Regions from separate parts of the Homo sapiens genome. Here region 1 is linked to region 2. Evidence: fine-mapped expression QTL. Tissue or cell type: whole blood. Region 2 holds a variant in brackets; the other region holds the start of a gene. All regions are shown on one strand. Distances are between the middles of the regions.

Region 1 (8,000 bases), 38 kb after region 2:
CAGCATAGTGTTTTCTTCTGGGCTGCTTCACTAAGAGAAAACCTTACAGCCAATCCAGGACCTCTCTGATCACCTCCCCAGTGGATGTAGCATTGGTAAAGTGGAAGGACCTTGTTCTGTTTGTCAGTAGGAGCTGATGTGTGTGAACGGACTCCTATCTCTGCTTCTTCCTTTGTGTGACAGACTGGGGTATCTTTGCCCATCCTTGCTTAGACCAGTCTAGACCCTCTGGCCCTCTGCATTCCCAGTTCCAAATGCTAGGGATGGAGAATGTGCTTGGGCTTGCATAAGACGGGGCTATGCCCCTGGCTCTCCTCAGCTGTAGTCAGCATTGCTAGCTGCCCACAACTCACGCCAGTGGGTGAAGATGCTGGTCTCAGAGAACCAGAGCTTGGCAGGCCCCCTCATACACCTCTTGGAGAGGTAGATGCTGGTCAACTATGCACCATTACCTGTGAGCAGAGCTTACTCCTCTGCCATTCTCTCTCCAGGCCCTCAGCATCCTCATGCTCCCTCACAACATCCCGTCCAGCCTGAGCCTGCTCACCAGCATGGTGGATGACATGTGGCATTACGCTGGGGACCAGTCCACTGATGTGAGTGCTTTCTGCAGGCCCACAGGAGGCTGGGAAAGGCTTGTGTTAAGCATTTCTTCAAGAAGCTTGTGAAATTGCTTTGATCATAAGCCCCTGCAGGGGGGCTGCAGTGTCATTCCCATCTAAGGTATGAGGAAGGTCCGTCAAGAAGCCAAAGTGGGATCTAGGTCATCTTCATTCAGGGACCAGCATTCTAGCCACAAACCAGTTATTATTTCTTCCAGCTTGTGGTGACACCAGGTGTCAGAGATCCTTTAGCATTGGCGAAAGCTAATTGGGCTGCCATTTTATTATCATTTCCCTCTCTCCTAAGATGTAGATTCTGCAGCAAAATTCCTCTTTTGAAAAAAAGAAATGCCATGGAGGCACCCATTGCTTTAAAAAGAAATTCCCTTCCCCAGCCCATCTTGGCCTGCTTTGCTAAGTGATCAATAAGGCTCTTTAAACAGCACCAGGAAAGAATCCGACTTGTTAATGCTATCATATTTCTGGTAGGAAATTTTAAAAAATACACCTTCATAAAAGAAAATGTGATGATACTTTGTGGAATCCTGGATGAGGAGGCACAGAAATACTCCCACCATAGTTATAACAAAGTGTTTTAATAAACTTCCTCCATGTGGGAATATAATGCCAACAGAGACGGTAGGAAAATGAAATTAGAAAGCAAAGAAATTAAAGGAATAAAACACCAAGCAGCTGAGCTGGTCCTCTGAAGAGTAGTTTGCTAGAACAATCAGAAGTTGCTGAGGGACTTGAACTCTCAGCTTTGCCCAGGTATTGTAATCTGTCCATGAGCCTCTCTCAGCCCTCACTTTATTGATGAACACACCAAGGTTCGGTCATAGCTGGCTGATTACAGCGTCTTCTGGGACTCAGATGTCTTAAGATGTAGGCTTTCTACTAGCAGTTCCAAAATGGATTGGATGTAGCCAAATCATCTGGGATACTTATTAAGTTTCCTGATTCCTGGCACTTTATTTAGATCCATTGACTCTACTCTTAAGAGGTTGGGCCCAGGAGCTTGCATTTTTAATCAAGTAGGTAATTCTGATGCTCAGTCAAGTTTGAGATGGTAGTGTTGTCCAGAGGGCCAGATGTATCTGTGACAGTCAAGAAGTAGTCAAGAGGGAACCCAGGAGTTCCCATGGCCTTGGGTAGGAACTGCCTCAGACTTGCACCAGCCCACAGCGGTAGTGTGGGTTTCTTTACAGTTTAACTGGTACACCCGCCGAGCCATGCTGGCTGCCATCTACAACACAACAGAGCTGGTGATGATGCAGGACTCCTCTCCAGACTTTGAGGACACTTGGCGCTTCCTGGAAAACCGGGTTAATGATGCAATGAACATGGGCCACACTGCCAAGCAGGTAGGTGGGGACTAGCCATTGGGGAACCCTCTTTAGAAGGCATACCTATTCTCCTCAGGTCACAGCTGGTCTTGCTCCCTTTTGGCCTCAGCTGACAGTCCTGAGGGCCTTCCCAAGGGCCTGGCTGGTTCTTCCTCAGGCCAGCCCTTCCCTAAGAGCCACACTTTGCTCATTTGCATTTGTGATTGTGTTGTCCAAAGCTCTCCTTCCAGTAACGTGGCCCCCTTGTCTTCACCTTTTGGGGCTCATAGGCCTCCTGATTTGTCCTGCCTGTCTCAAGTTTAACTTTGTGTTGGTGGCCTAAGGGAACCTGACACTGACTCCTTCTAGGTAAAGTCCACAGGAGAGGCACTGGTGCAAGGACTCATGGGTGCAGCAGTGACGGTGAGTACTGCCCAGCACATCCCTGCCCCTCCTCTCTCCCATTCCGGCTCTGTGATACATGTGTTACTGACTTCACATCATTTTGTAGCCCTAACCTGGAAACAATAATCTAATAATAAGGCTGACAATGGTTCAGCCCTAGTGTCTTGATTCCAAAAACCTCACTTCTTTATTTTTTCCTGTCATCAGGAGATATCACTGACTCCTGGGACCCTGGTATATCAAGTCTCTGTATCATAGCCACACCTGCCACCTTGCAAACCTGGATCTTGGCCAGGTGCAGTGGCTCATGCATATCATCTCAGCGATTTGGGAAGATCGCTTGAGCCCAGGAGTTTGAGGACAGTCTGGCCAACATAGCAAAACCCTGTCTCTATGCAAAAAAGAAAAAAAAAAAGAGAAAAAGAAAAGCTAGGTCTTTTCTATTAGAGTCTAGAGGCAAGGTAAGCCCTCACTATTCTCTTTATTTCCATTCCCGTGTCAGCTCAAGAACTTGACAGGTCTAAACCAGCGTCGGTGAGAGGAAGGGGTATAAGCTACAATGCCTAGAAGAGAATGAGCGGACAGATTGAAAGAGCTTTGAAAAGTATAAGGTGCCATCCACATAACCTGGTGTTCACGAGAACACACTAAAGGACTCCTGAGTCACTACCACAGCCACCTGGAAACCACAAGGCATTTGATGCTACCGTTCTGGTCAGGGATTGGGCTGCTTCTTCAGTTCCTAATACCAGACCAAGCCTCCTGATGCCTTTCTGCACTGCAACTGTGTGATTGAAAAATGAGATGTTCATCCAAGCAGTCAAGCCACAGAAACCCAGCATGTCCCTGTCACAATCTCATGGGCACCTTGATCATGTCTTAACCTTCCCTTAACCTTGGGGCTCCCAAGCCAGAGTCAAGGTCTGACGCCACCTCAAGGTGACAGCTCATCTCCAGCACAGCACAGGCGTGTGCACACAGAGGTGTTCCTTGCAGCCCCCTCCCTCTCAGGTGTCCTGAGATGCTGTTCCTGGGAGCCCCCTCAGAAAACTGCCTCACCTGAGACAAGTGCCTGCTGGACAGAGGTGTGATTCCAGGCCTGGTGTCACATGACACCAGCATGCATTGCAGGATTATTAGTGTATTTTGAGTCTGTAAAAATAATAAATATGTTTGAAGTAGTTTCCCATTGTGTAGTTAGTTTCCTTATCAATCATGATAGGTATCCAGGACCCCAGAGGGAGACAGGTTAAGTTATGGCAGCCAGGAGACCTGTGTTCTGGCGCTGCCACTGCCTAATACATAGTGGTAATTATAGTACCTCTGCGTCTCTGGGCTCAAGTCTTCCCATCAGTAAAATACGGGTAACAGAAGCCTTCCCACAGACCATCAGCTCCCTTGGCTGCTCTTGTCTGACGATTTTAGTGGTACATTCTTTAGCCCCAGTAATTTTCTCAGCCTCTACACTGGCTGGGTTCCCTTTGCACGTCTGGTTAGCTCTGTTTTCTGCTTTGCTCTCTTCTGCCTGTCAGCTGAATATTAATGGGGGAAAGTCAGCAACTAATTGAATTTCAGATCTCTTGTGGGTCTTCCACTGGATCTTTTTTGCACCTCTCAATTCCTTGTATCTCTTGACATCCTGTGAAGTTTTCGCAGTAGCTGTTCCAGTTTTCATTGCATTCTCCTTTTTCCTTCATAGCATCCATCTTACACTCAGCAGACAACCATAATTCTTAATTTACCAAGATGACACAGGTTATGGAGCAGGGTTCCATCAGTGCCCACCCTCTGTTTCAGGAAGAGGTGTCACTCTTTGCAAAGGCAAACTCCTCTTTATCTGGTTACTCTTCTCCCAACTCTTAAATGTATTTCCTGCCACGTTCTATTTTAGAGCTTTTCTCTGTTGGAGCAGCAGCCACTTTTTTTGAGGCCCATTTAAACCTCTCTCCAGTCTGTTTAGGGGACTTCAGTAGTTCTTTGTTGAGCATGCACCCCACATGGTGCCCACTGCCAGGCACTGGGGATGCAGAGACAAAGAGTTCCCACTCACCCACCACAGCTACACAGACTGTAGAGGAAGCATTAGGTTAAAGAACATTGTATCTTTTCCTGAAGTTTTCAGAAGTGCATGGTCCATACTTGAGACTGCAAGGGAAAGGGTATTTACTTATAATTCAGGTATACTTTGCTAAAATATACATTCATATTAAAATATACTTTTGTTTTTCTATAGATGTACAAGTTCTTTTTAAGTGCTTCATAGTATTCCATGTGTGTATACTCCACCAGGTCTCTTATCAATGGACAGTACAAACAGTACTACCACGAACGTCCCTGCACTCGTATCTTTGTTTACAACTGCAAGTGTTTCTGCAGTATGAATTCTTAGAAGTGTTACTGTTAAGTGAAGGACGTATGCGTGTTTTGCCAAACTACCCTCCGAGATAGCTGAATCTGGTACATTTTAAAGCAGGAGGCCGCAGAAGACGCTCGGCAGTTCTGGCCTCCGAGCAGCAGGCGGCGCTGTGAGTCGTCTTTGCGGAAGCCGCGGAGGCCTCGCTGACTGACTTCCGGTGTTGGCGGTGGCGCCGCGCAGTCACCGCGGAGCAGACGCGGAGGCTGGTGGCCCCTGGGCGAGATGCCGTACGCCAACCAGCCTACCGTGCGGATCACGGAGCTCACTGACGAGAATGTCAAGTTCATCATCGAGAACACCGACCTGGCGTAAGGCTACCGAGGGAAGAGGCTGGCGGCTCTGGGGCGCCGGGAGGCCCAAGCCGGGGCCCCGGGGCAGGGGGCGGGGGTGTAGTGGGGTGGGGTGGGGGCGATGTCCTTCCAGAGCTGCCCCCCTGCACCAGGGCTTTAGCTTTGGGAGCCTGCGGCGCGGGCCCAGCCTGTCGAGGCTGCAGCGCCTTCACGCCCCTTGGCTTTTGATCTTTCAGGGTGGCCAATTCGATTCGGAGGGTCTTCATCGCTGAGGTTCCCATAATAGGTAAGCGACTCCCCTTCCTCGTTCCCGCGCCCACGGGTTCCTGCCCCGCTCTCCACCCACACACTCTTTGGGGCTCCTTCCAGTCCTTGGTTCGGGCTGAGGGTGGTAGTGCTGAGAAAAGTGCATTGCTGGAGACTTGACCATACCCTGTGCCCTTGGCTCAGTGGCCGCCTCCCTGGCGCCCACGGGCCACTTAGGTCCACCCTTGTCCTGGGTATGCATTGCTGAGAAGCATGGGTTTAGCAGTGTGCAGACTTGGGTTCAAATACTGTTTTCACTACTATTGTTACAAAAGTTTTTAAAATGTTTTCAACTTTTATTTTGGAGTCAAGGGGTACATTGGTGCAGGTTTGTTGCCTGGGTATAGTGCGTGATGCTGAGATTTGGGGTATAAATGATCCTTTCACCCAGGTAGTGAGCATAGTACGCAATAGGTAGTTTTTCACCCCTAGCCCCACTGCCTCCCTTCCAGCTCTAGTAGTCACCAGTGTGTTTATTGTCATCTTTATGTCCGTGCGTACCCAGTTTTAGCTCCCATGCGGTGTTTGGTTTTCTGTTCCTGTGTTAATTCTCTTAGGATAATGGCTTCCAGGCCGCGCTCGCGCCTGTAATTCCAGCACTTTGGGAGGCCAAGACTGAGGAACACCTGAGGCCAGGAGTTTGAGACCAGCCTGGCCAACATGGGGAAAGCCCGCCTCTACTAAAAATGCAAAAATTAGCCAGGTGTGGTGGCTCCCACCTGTAATCCCAGCTACTGGGGAGGCTGAGGCAGAATTGATTGAACCCAGAAGGTGGAGGTTGCAGTGAGCCGAGATCATGCCACTGCACTCTGGCCTGGGCAATAGAGTGAGACTCCTTCTCAAACAAAAGAAAATAAAAAAGAAGATAGTGGCTTCCAGCCACGTCCATGTTGCTGCAGAGGACATGATTTCGTTCGTTCTTATGGCTGCATCACTTACTGCTTTTGTGAAACTTGGGCAAGTTATTAAACTTCTGTGTGCTGCAGTTTCCTCATCTGTAACATTCGGCCACTAATGATCCTTATCAGGGTAATGTTAAGGATTAAGTGAGGTAATCCATATAAGTGCTTTGTGTTTAGTGAGTGCTCAGTGCTGGTAGATGGCTTTTTTATTAATCTATTCCTTCAACAGCATTTATGGAGCATGAAAGTGGCAGGCATGGTGGTAAGCTCTGGGAATGCAAAGCTGTAGAGAACAGGGTTTTTGCCCTCATGGAGTCCACAGTGAGGTTGTAGGGGAGAGATGAATCCACAGACAACACTAAAGCAAGGTAGATTTTGATCAGTAGTTCAGGAGAAGCATAGCTGTGGTGCACTTGGCTCTTAGAGGAGGGAAGATCAATTTCTGGTCTGGTTCCAGCCACTCTGCTCCAGGTGCTTAATGCATTGATTATACTTGTATGAAATACTTCAAGCATTTCTGAGAGTCAGCTCAGAGAGTTTGGATTAGGCAAAATAAATATAAGTCATAGCTGTGGCATCAAATATTCAGACTTTTAAGGAAATAAGCAGGCCAAATGATTAGGCAAGAGAACATTGTAGTTTATCCACTACCACCACCACCCCACCCCCCCGCCCCCCAGTCACTTCTTAAATTCAGCTTGGAGTGCTGGACCTCCCCCTGCCTAAGCACTTCATGCCTCTGGACCTCAGTTTCATCAGGAGTCAGGTGAGGGAGTTGTACTTCATGATGCAGCCCTGCCATTCTGAGTCTAAATGCCTCTTTCCCAACAAATTCAGTTCTACAAATAATATTGAGCACCCATGCTAGGAATACAAAGACATCCCAGGACCTGCGTGAAGGAATTTCTGAAGCTTGAGGTATAGACATAACATACACAAATATGACACAAGGCACACTATGACAAGTGTCTTGAGGGAAGTCTGAACAGAGTTTTGTGAGAGAGGAGTTGAAAGGGAGGGAATGTCACATCTGTAGCATAGAGAGCAGGCAAGGCTTAGTTTTCAGGAGGCACAGAGGATCTTAACCTGTACAGCAAGGAGGGGAAGGGTGTGCTGGAGGGAAGGGCTGGGGGATTAAAGAGGCAGAAAAGCTTGGGTCAGGGTTCTCTCAGTTGGCTTGGACTGGGGAAGCAATGGGAAGCATAGCAGGACAGAGCAGGTGGAGGCCTGGCAGGGGGAGGTCCTCTTCCGACCGCTGTTCCTAGTGTCTGTGTCCCTCGTTTGGCAGTTGGGCTCCAGTGCCATTTGATTCCTGGATTTAGTTGGTTCCATGCAAATGTTTATGAATGAATAAATGTGTGTTTAAGTCAAGCATGTGTGATCGATAATACAGTCTTTACCCTCCTACGAGCTCATTGCTGCTAGGGATTGGGTTCTATATTTAGTATACTTTGCGCATTAAAAGAATTCAGTAAACATTTGTTGATTGAGTGTTTAAAAAGTGCTAAGTTGGGCAGTCCAGTCATTATATCCTAAAATGAGGTATGGCCCCATAAGTCTGTGTTGCTTCTGTGAGGGTTTCCCTGACTTTGAAGTGCTCAAATAGTTCATGTTCTTGGATTTAGTGGTGGCACAGGTAGCAGATTTAAGTGCTTCTCATGCAAATACTCAGCTCAAATAAACATGTTTCCACTTCTATGATATTCTATAAGTCAGTGTTTTCTGTGAAGCAGGGAGCCCCCTGCATTAAATTC
Region 2 (8,251 bases):
AGCCAGACCCGGGCTGCTTCCCCTGGCCTGCCTTGCACTTCGGGTGGAAACCCCACAAAAGGCTGTGGCCTGTGCTGTTCTGATCCTTCCTTTCAGCCTCCTGACCAAACTTGGTGCTCCCCCTGTGGCCCCGTGTGTGGTCCTGCGTGTGTGCCATGCCCTGTTCTCCTGGGAGATGCAAGTGATGAATTCTTTCAGTGTCCTTGGTCGCTCTGTGTTGTCACTCAGTCACCTCCATCAATTCAAATCCTGGGGGTACATTTTAAATTTTTTAAATTGATGCATAGTAATTGTACATATTTATGGGATACATATGATACTGTGACACAAGCATACAATGCATAGTGATCAGATCAAGGTAATCAGGATATCCATCACCTCGAACATTTATCATTTCACTGTGTTGGGAACGTTTCAAATCTTCTCTTCTAGCTATTTTGAAATATACAATAGGCTGGGCATAGTGGCTCACACCTGTAATCCCAGCACTCTGGGAGGCCAAGGTGGGAGGATCACTTGAGCCCAGGAGTCTGAGACCAGTCTGGGCAACATAGTGAGACTCAGTCTTTACGAAATGCACAAATTAGCCAGGCATGGTAGCATGCGCCTGTGCTGCCAGCTACTCAGGAGGCTGAGGTGGGAGGATCACTTGAGCACAGCAGGTCAAGGCTGCAGTGAACTGTGATGGTGCCACTGCACTCCAGCCGGGGTTACAGAGGGAGACCCTGTCTCAAAAAGAAAAAAAAGGCTGGGCATGGTGGCTCACGCCTGTAATCCTAGCACTTTGGGAGGCCAAAGTAGGTAGATCACCTGAGGTCAGGAGTTCTAGACCAGCTTGGCCAACATGATGAAACCCCATCTTTACTAAAAATACAAAAAAATTAGCTGGATGTGGTGGCTGGCACCTGTAATCCTAGCTACTCGGGAGGCTGAGGCAGGAGAATCGCTTGAACCCGGGAGAGGTTGCAGTGAGCCAAGATTGCACCATTGCACTCCAGCCTGGGCGATAAGAGTGAAACTCCATCTCAAAGAAAGAAAGAAAGAAAGAAAAAGAAAGGAAGGAAGGAAGGAAGGAAGAAAAGAAAGAAAGAAAAAAGAAATACACAATAAATTGTTTACTATAGTCACCCTACTGTGCAATCGAACACTGGAAATTATTCCTTCTATCCAGCTGTTTGTTTGTACCCATTAACCAATCTCTCCCCATCACCCCTCTCCCCTAAATAGAACTACCATATGATCCAGCAATCCTACTACTGGGTATTTATCCAAAGGAAAGGAAATCAATATATCAAAGGGATACCTGCACCCCCATGTTTATTGCAGCACTATTCACAATAGCCAAAATATGAAATCAACCCGTGTCCATCAATGGAGTAATAAATAAATAAATTTGGTACATGTACACAACAGAGTACGATTCAGCCATAAAAAAAGAAGGAAATCCTGTCATTTGCAGCAAAATGGATGGACAGTCATTATGTTAAGTGAAATAAGCCAGGCACAGAAAGACAAATATCTCATGTTCTCACTCATATGTGGGAGCTAAAAAAAGTTTATCTTCGAAAGTACATTTTAACACAAAGGGTCAGGGACCTGTTTGGAGTCTCTGCTTTGCCACTGACTGGCCGTCGGACCTGGACACATGCGCCTCACCTGCCTGAGCCTCACCTGCCTGAGCCTATTTCTCCATGAAGCAATGGAACTGGACCTTCTCTCACCTGTTTGGGGATGTGCCAATATGGCTACTCCTCTACCTCTCACATCGCCCTTAGCGGACCACAGTCTTAGAAAACCTGCCGTTTCTGGTCGGACGCAGTGGCTCACAATCATGAGGTCAAGCGATCGAGACCAGTGTGACCAACATGGTGAAACCCCGTCTCTACTAAAAATACAAAAATTAGCCAGGCATGGTGGCGCGTGCCTGTAATCCCAGCTACTCGGGAGGCTGAGGCAGGAGAATCACTTGAACTCGGGAGGCAGAGGTTGCAGTGAGCCGAGATCACGCCATTGCACTCCAGCCTGGGTGACAGAGTGAGAGTGAGACTCTGTCTCAAAAAAAAAAAAAAGAAAAAGAAAAGAAAAGAAAGAAAAGAAAACCTGCCATTTCCTCATAATTGAACTGCCATCACCTGGATATTCCCTGTGCCCTTCTCCAAAGCCAGCATGGCAACCACGGGGGTGAAATACTCAGACGAGCAAAGGGATCAGGGCTTTAAGAAGCCAGCCTTCAGCCAAGCATGGTGGCTCACACCTGTAATCCCAGCACTTTGAGGGGCCGAGGCAGGCGGATCACTTGAGGTCAGGAGTTCAAGACCAGCCTGGCCAACAGGGTGAAACTCTGACAGTACTAAAAATACAAAAATTAGCTGGGCATGGTGGTGCATGCCTGTAATCCCAGCTACTTGGGAGGCCGAGGCAGGGGGATTGCTTGAACCTGGGAGGTAGAGGCTGCAGTGAGCCCAGATCAGTCCACTGCACTCCAGCCTGGGCAACAGAGTGAGACTCTGTCTCAAAACAAACCAACCAACCAACCCTGACCAGTACTCCTCAAAATGATCAAGCTCATCCAAAACAAGGAAAGTCTGAGAAACTGTCACAGCCAAAAATCAGCTTTCAAAGGACTTGTTAAGTCCTTGCACATACATGTTCATGGTGGGATATTTACTACAGCACAAAGCTGGAAACAGCCCAAGGCCTATCAACAGCTGAATGGATAAACAAAAGTGGTCTAACCATATAAGGAAGATTTTTCTGCATGGATACGCCCTACGATATGGGTGAAGCTCGAAACACTCTGTTAAGCTAAAGAAGCCAAACGCAGAAGGTCACACAGTGTATAATTTCATTCATATGAAATGTCAGAAGTAACTCCATGGAGTCAGAACGCCCACTGGTGGTGACCAGAGATGGTGGGAGAGGAAGACCGGAAGGGACTGCTTACTGGGGATGGGGTTTCCTTTCAGGGCAATGAAAACATTTTGGAACTAGATAGAGGTGGTGGTTGCACCACACTGTGAATGTACCAAATGCTGCTGAATTGTTTATTTTAAATCGTTCATTTTATGTTATGTGAATTTCATAAAAAAGACATATTCAATATTCACTTTTCTGTAGAGTAGCAGGCTTGGATGAGACATATATCAGCTCAGGACAAAGGAGTCCTCTGGGAGGACAGCGAAGGGATTTTGCCACTGCTGTATCACTTGTGTACGAAAAAAAGGAGTGATCAGAATCACACACAGCAAAGCTAGTTGTCTATTGGAAATTCTCTGTATTTGAAATCTTTCATGATTTAAGAGAAAAAATGTTTAAGTAATAATAGAAAATCAAAAAGGAAGGAAGGAAGGAGGAAAGGAAGGAAGGGAGGGAGGGAGGAAGGAAGGGAGGGAGGGAGGGAGGAAGGAGGAAAGGGAGGGAGGGAGGGGAAGGGATGGAGAGAGGAAGGAAGGAAGGGAAGGAAGGAAAAGGAAGAAAGGGGAAGGAAGGGAAGAGGAGAAGGAAGGAAGGATGGATGGTGGGAGGGAAGGGAGGGAGGGAGGGGGAGGAAGGGAGGGAGGGGAAGCAATGAAGGAGGGAGGGAGGGAAGGAGGGGAAGGAAGGAAGAGAGGGAAGGAGTGAGGGAGGGGAAGGGAGGGAGGGAAGGAGGGGAAGGAAGGAAGAGAGGGAAGGAGTGAGGGAGGGGAAGGAAGGGAGGAAAGAAGGAAGGAAAG[A/G]AAGGAGCATTCTAACCCAGCTGAGTCTGAACGCAGTCTCCAGATCAGCACAGAGGTTTGCAGAGGTGAAAGCCTCATGCTGGATGGTGGGCCACGGGTAACCAATGACCAGACCACCAGCTTGACCACCAGGAGTGACCACTGAAGGTGAGATCTGAAGTCACTGAGGGCTGAGTGGGGGCTTCTGTCCCTGCTTTCCCCGAGAGGGGTGAAGTAAGAGCCACCCAAGAGCTGCCCCATCCCCACCCCTACTTAGCACAAAGCTATTTTATACATTTGTGTAATTTGTAGCAAAAATTTTGGTCACAAACAGTATTCACCTGCTCTGTGACAACCTTCTCCCTCTGTTACTATTATTCTGAGGCAGCTTTATATATATAGATGCCGTACTAGTTCCACTTTAAAAATTTTGCATGAGATGATAACGGGGTCAAGTGTTCCACAGAGGTTCGTGTCGGGGAGAAGCAGGACTTTGTCCTGGGCTAGCAGTATTCTTCTTAAGACCCAGGGTTTCATGTGAGAGGTTTTCAGGTTTTTTCAATGAAGTTTCTTAGAAATACAAATCCACTGGTCGGGCGTGGTGGCTCACGCCTGTTAATCCCAGCACTTTGGGAGGCTGAGGCGAGTGGATCACCTGAGGTCAGGAGTTCAAGACCAGCCTGGCTAACATGGTGAAACCCCGTCTCTACTAAAAAATACAAAAAATTAGCCGGGCGCGGTGGCGGGCGCCTGTAGTCCCAGCTACTCGGGAGGCTGAGGCAGGAGAATGGCGTGAACCCGGGAAGCGGAGCTTGCAGTGAGCCGAGATTGCGCCACTGCAGTCCGCAGTCCGACCTGGGCGACAGAGCGAGACTCTGTCTCAAAAAAAAAAAAAAAAAAAAAAAAGAAGAAGAAATACAAATCCATCATGTATATAGCAGGTATACAAACACATAAAAATAAACACTTGTATACCCACCGTCCAGCCTAAAGAAATAGAACTTTCCTGCTGATGAAGTCCTGCCTCTTTCTCCCGTCTCCCTTTGGAGCCAACTGTGGTCCTGAATTATATCATTCCCCTTGAGCTCTTTATTAGTTTTGTCACACACATACATGTGTGTATACATCATGTATATGCACATATGTATGTGTATATCCTTAATGACAGGCTGATGCATCTGGCATGTTTTTGAACTTTATGTAAATGAAATATTTCTCACACACACACACACACACACACACTTCTGTGACTTGCTTTTGTGGCTTCTGTTGCTTCGTGATTCTTCCATGTTGAAGTGCACAGCTATAGCTCATCACTGCTGTGCAGTGTTCCACTGCTTGGACGCACAGCTCATTCATTCACGCTCTTGTTAATGGACATTTGGATTGTCTCTTAGAAGTACTGCTGCTTTGAATACTTGTCTCCTGGTGCATGGGCCAAAGAATTTCTCTAGGGCAGTGGTTCTCAATCCTGGCTGCACTCTACAATGACCTGGGAGAGCTTTGCAAAAATGCTGATGCCCTGGGCCCTACTCCAAGGGATTCTGACTGAATTGGGTTTTGGAGAGGAAATCCAGGAATAGGCTTTTGTTTTGTTTTGTTTTGGTTTATTTTTGGAAGCTATCCAGGTGATTCTAATATGCAGCCAGTGTTCAAAGTGACATGAGGGTGACATTGCCCAAAGTATCCCTACCAACAGGGAGTTCTCACCCGGCCACATTTTCACCAATACTTGGTAAGGTTTCTGTTTAGCCTTCTCCCTGCCACAAGGACAGGCAGCTGGGCTGTTCACAGTCTCTCTTCTCCAGTGCAGAGACCAGGGTGCTTCCAGCATGCCAGGCTCCGCTGTGGGGTTCTCCCTTCAGCCCCACTGCCTGCCTGTGCCCTTGGACCCCACTGTTACACACGAGGGCCCATTCTGCAGCTCAGGGGTATCTTCATCTGGAGCAGGTTTGCACCCTCATCTGCTCTCCCTTCTCTCCTGTCCACACTCTGGCTCCAAAGCCTCTGCTCTCATCTCCTTCCAAGTATTTTGTGGTTCTGTTTTGGCTGCCTCCTAACCCCAAGGAAGGTAATGGTTTGTCTCTGCTGTCCCCTCCATTTACTGATTTTGAATGATTTCGGAAGGGGGAAGTCCCAAATGTACACTGCCAAGTTCTAAGCTAGAGACTTTAGAAAACTAAAAAAGAAGAAATATTACACCCCCAGCCCCATCTCGGTCCACATTGGGCTGACTCAGAACATCCAAGGACATCAGGCCTCAGTACTTTTTTTTTTTTTTGAGATGGAGTTTCACTCTTGTCACCCAGGCTGGAGGGCAATGGCACCATCTTGCCTTACTGCAACCTCCGCCTCCTGGGTTCAAGCGATTCAACTGCCTCAGCCTCCAAAGTAGCTGGGATTACAGGCATGCACCACCACACCTGGCTAATTTTTGTATTTTTAGTAGAGGTGGGGTTTCACCATGTTGGCCAGGCTGGTCTCGAACTCCTGACTTCAAGTGATCCACCTGCCTCGGCCTTCCAAAGTGCTGGGATTACAGGTGTGAGCCACTGTGCCGGGCCAGGCCTCAGTACTTTATTTTTTTGAGACGGAGTCTCGCTGTGTCTCCCAGGCTGGAGTGCAGTGGTGTGATCTCGGCTCACTGCCAGCTCTGCCTCCCAGGTCCAAGCGATTCTCCTGCCTCAGCCTCCCGAGTAGCTGGGACTACAAGGCACCCACCACCACACCCGGCTAATTTTTTGTATTTTTAGTAGAGATGGGGTTTCACTGTGTTAGCCAGGAGGGTCTCAATCTCCTGACCTCATGATCTGCCCACCTCAGCCTCCCAAAGTGCTGGGATTACAGGCGTGAGCCACCACACCCGGCCAGGCCTCAGTACTTTTAAGAGGTGCTCAGGTGAATGATGGCAGCAGGTTACCCTCCCAGTCTCACCCTTTCCTCAGATGTAAGATGAGGTTGCATTCAGTGATTATAAGAGCCCATGTTGGCTCCAATACTGTGAGCTTGCTGAACGCTGAAACCTCTAGCCTGTCTGGCTGTTGCCTCACTGGGTGCAGGTGTAGGTGCAGGTGTGTCTGAGCCCCCGGCCCAGGTGTGTCCTGCTGATTGGCAAGGACTCTTCCCTCACTCTGGGCCCCAGACTCCGAGCTAGCTGGCTTGCCCCGGACCCTGTGGAGTGACACGGCAACTGCCGGCATAAAATCATTAACTATGCCAACTGCAGCAGACAGGAGATGGCAGTATCCTTTTTGCCAGCAACAGCTGGGACTCAGAGCAAGAATCGGCGAGGGCTTGTGGCATTTGCTAGGCCTGTCCAGGAAGCTCTGGCTCAGGATCTCTTGTCCTCAACATGGAGGTTGAGATTTTTGTCCTTCATATGGGCAAGTGCAGCAGAAGCAACCAACAGTGGCCCTGCAGCTTAATAATTATGTTACTATCGGACCAGGCAGTGGCTCACACCTATAATCCCAGCACTTTGGGAGGCCGAGGCAGGTGAATCACAAGGTCAGGAGTTTGAGACCAGCCTGGCTAACATGGTAAAACCCCGTCTCTATTAAAAATACAAAAAATTAGCTGGGCGTGGTGGTACATGCCTGTAGTCCCAGCTACTCGGGAGGCTGAGGCAGGAGAATCGCTTGAACCTGGGAGGCAGAGCTTGCAGTGAACCGAGATCACACCACTGCACTCCAGCCTGGGTGAGAGAGCGAGACTCCATCTCAAAATAATAATAATAAATAATAATTTTGTTACTGTCAAACCATTCTGGGGCTGAATTAGTTTCCTACTGCTGTGTAACCAACGACCTCACATTTAGCTGCTTAAAACACCCATTTCTTATCACAAGTTCTGTGGGCCAGGAGTCCTGGCACAGAAGACCGGGGCCTCTACTCAGGATCTTACAAGGTGCCGGCTAGGCTGCATTCTCAACTGGAACTTGGGGTCCTCTCCAAGCTAACCTGGTTGTTGGCAGAATGCGGTTCCTTGCAGCTGTGGACTAAGGTCCCCTTTTTCTCGACTGTCTGCCAGCATGTGAGGAGCCTGCACTCACAGTTCCTTGCCAATGGCCCTCTCCCTACTTGGCAACTGATATGGTTAGGCTTCGTGTCCCCACCCAAATCTCATCTTGAATTGTAATCCCCATAATCCCCACGTGTCAAGCGAGAGGGGTGGAGGTAACTGAATCATGAGGGCGGTTTCCCCCATGCTGTTCTGATGATAGTGAGTTCTCACAAGATCTGATGGTTTTATAAGGGGCTCTTCCTCCTTTGCTCAGCATGTCTCCTCCCTGCCACCTTGTGAAGGAGGTGTCTTGCTTCCCCTTCGCCTTCCGCCATGATTGTAAGTTGCCTGAGGCCTCCCCAGCCATGCAGAACTGTGAGTCAATTAAACCTCTTCCCTTTAAAAATTACCCAGTCTCGGGCAGTTCTTTATAGTAGTATGAAAACAGACTAATACAGCACTTACTTCTTCATGGCTAGCAAGAGAAATTCTTCTCTAGTTCTTTTAAAGGATCAACTGATTGGGTCAAGCCTACTCAGGATAATCTCCCTTTTAAT

Evidence for each region. PIP is the estimated chance that this variant, and not a neighbour inherited with it, causes the effect.
Region 1: it holds the start of POLR2C, and the variant in region 2 is fine-mapped to the expression of POLR2C in whole blood (TOPMed, PIP above 0.99).

What each region holds. Positions count from the first base shown.
Region 1 is chr16:57,457,755-57,465,754 of GRCh38, forward strand. POLR2C (RNA polymerase II subunit C) reads left to right here and starts at 4,925. Exons shown (of 9, transcript NM_032940.3): 1 at 4,925-5,056; 2 at 5,275-5,324. The coding sequence starts at 4,971. It overlaps COQ9 (coenzyme Q9), which reads left to right. Exons shown (of 9, transcript NM_020312.4): 6 at 492-596; 7 at 1,811-1,966; 8 at 2,297-2,350; 9 at 2,835-3,516. The coding sequence ends at 2,870. RefSeq lists an enhancer at 4,783-5,077.
Region 2 is chr16:57,419,646-57,427,896 of GRCh38, forward strand. No RefSeq gene overlaps it. Among named protein-coding and RNA genes, the nearest start is that of CCL17, 19 kb to the left of the region's middle. The variant A/G (reference allele first, on the strand shown) is at 3,714.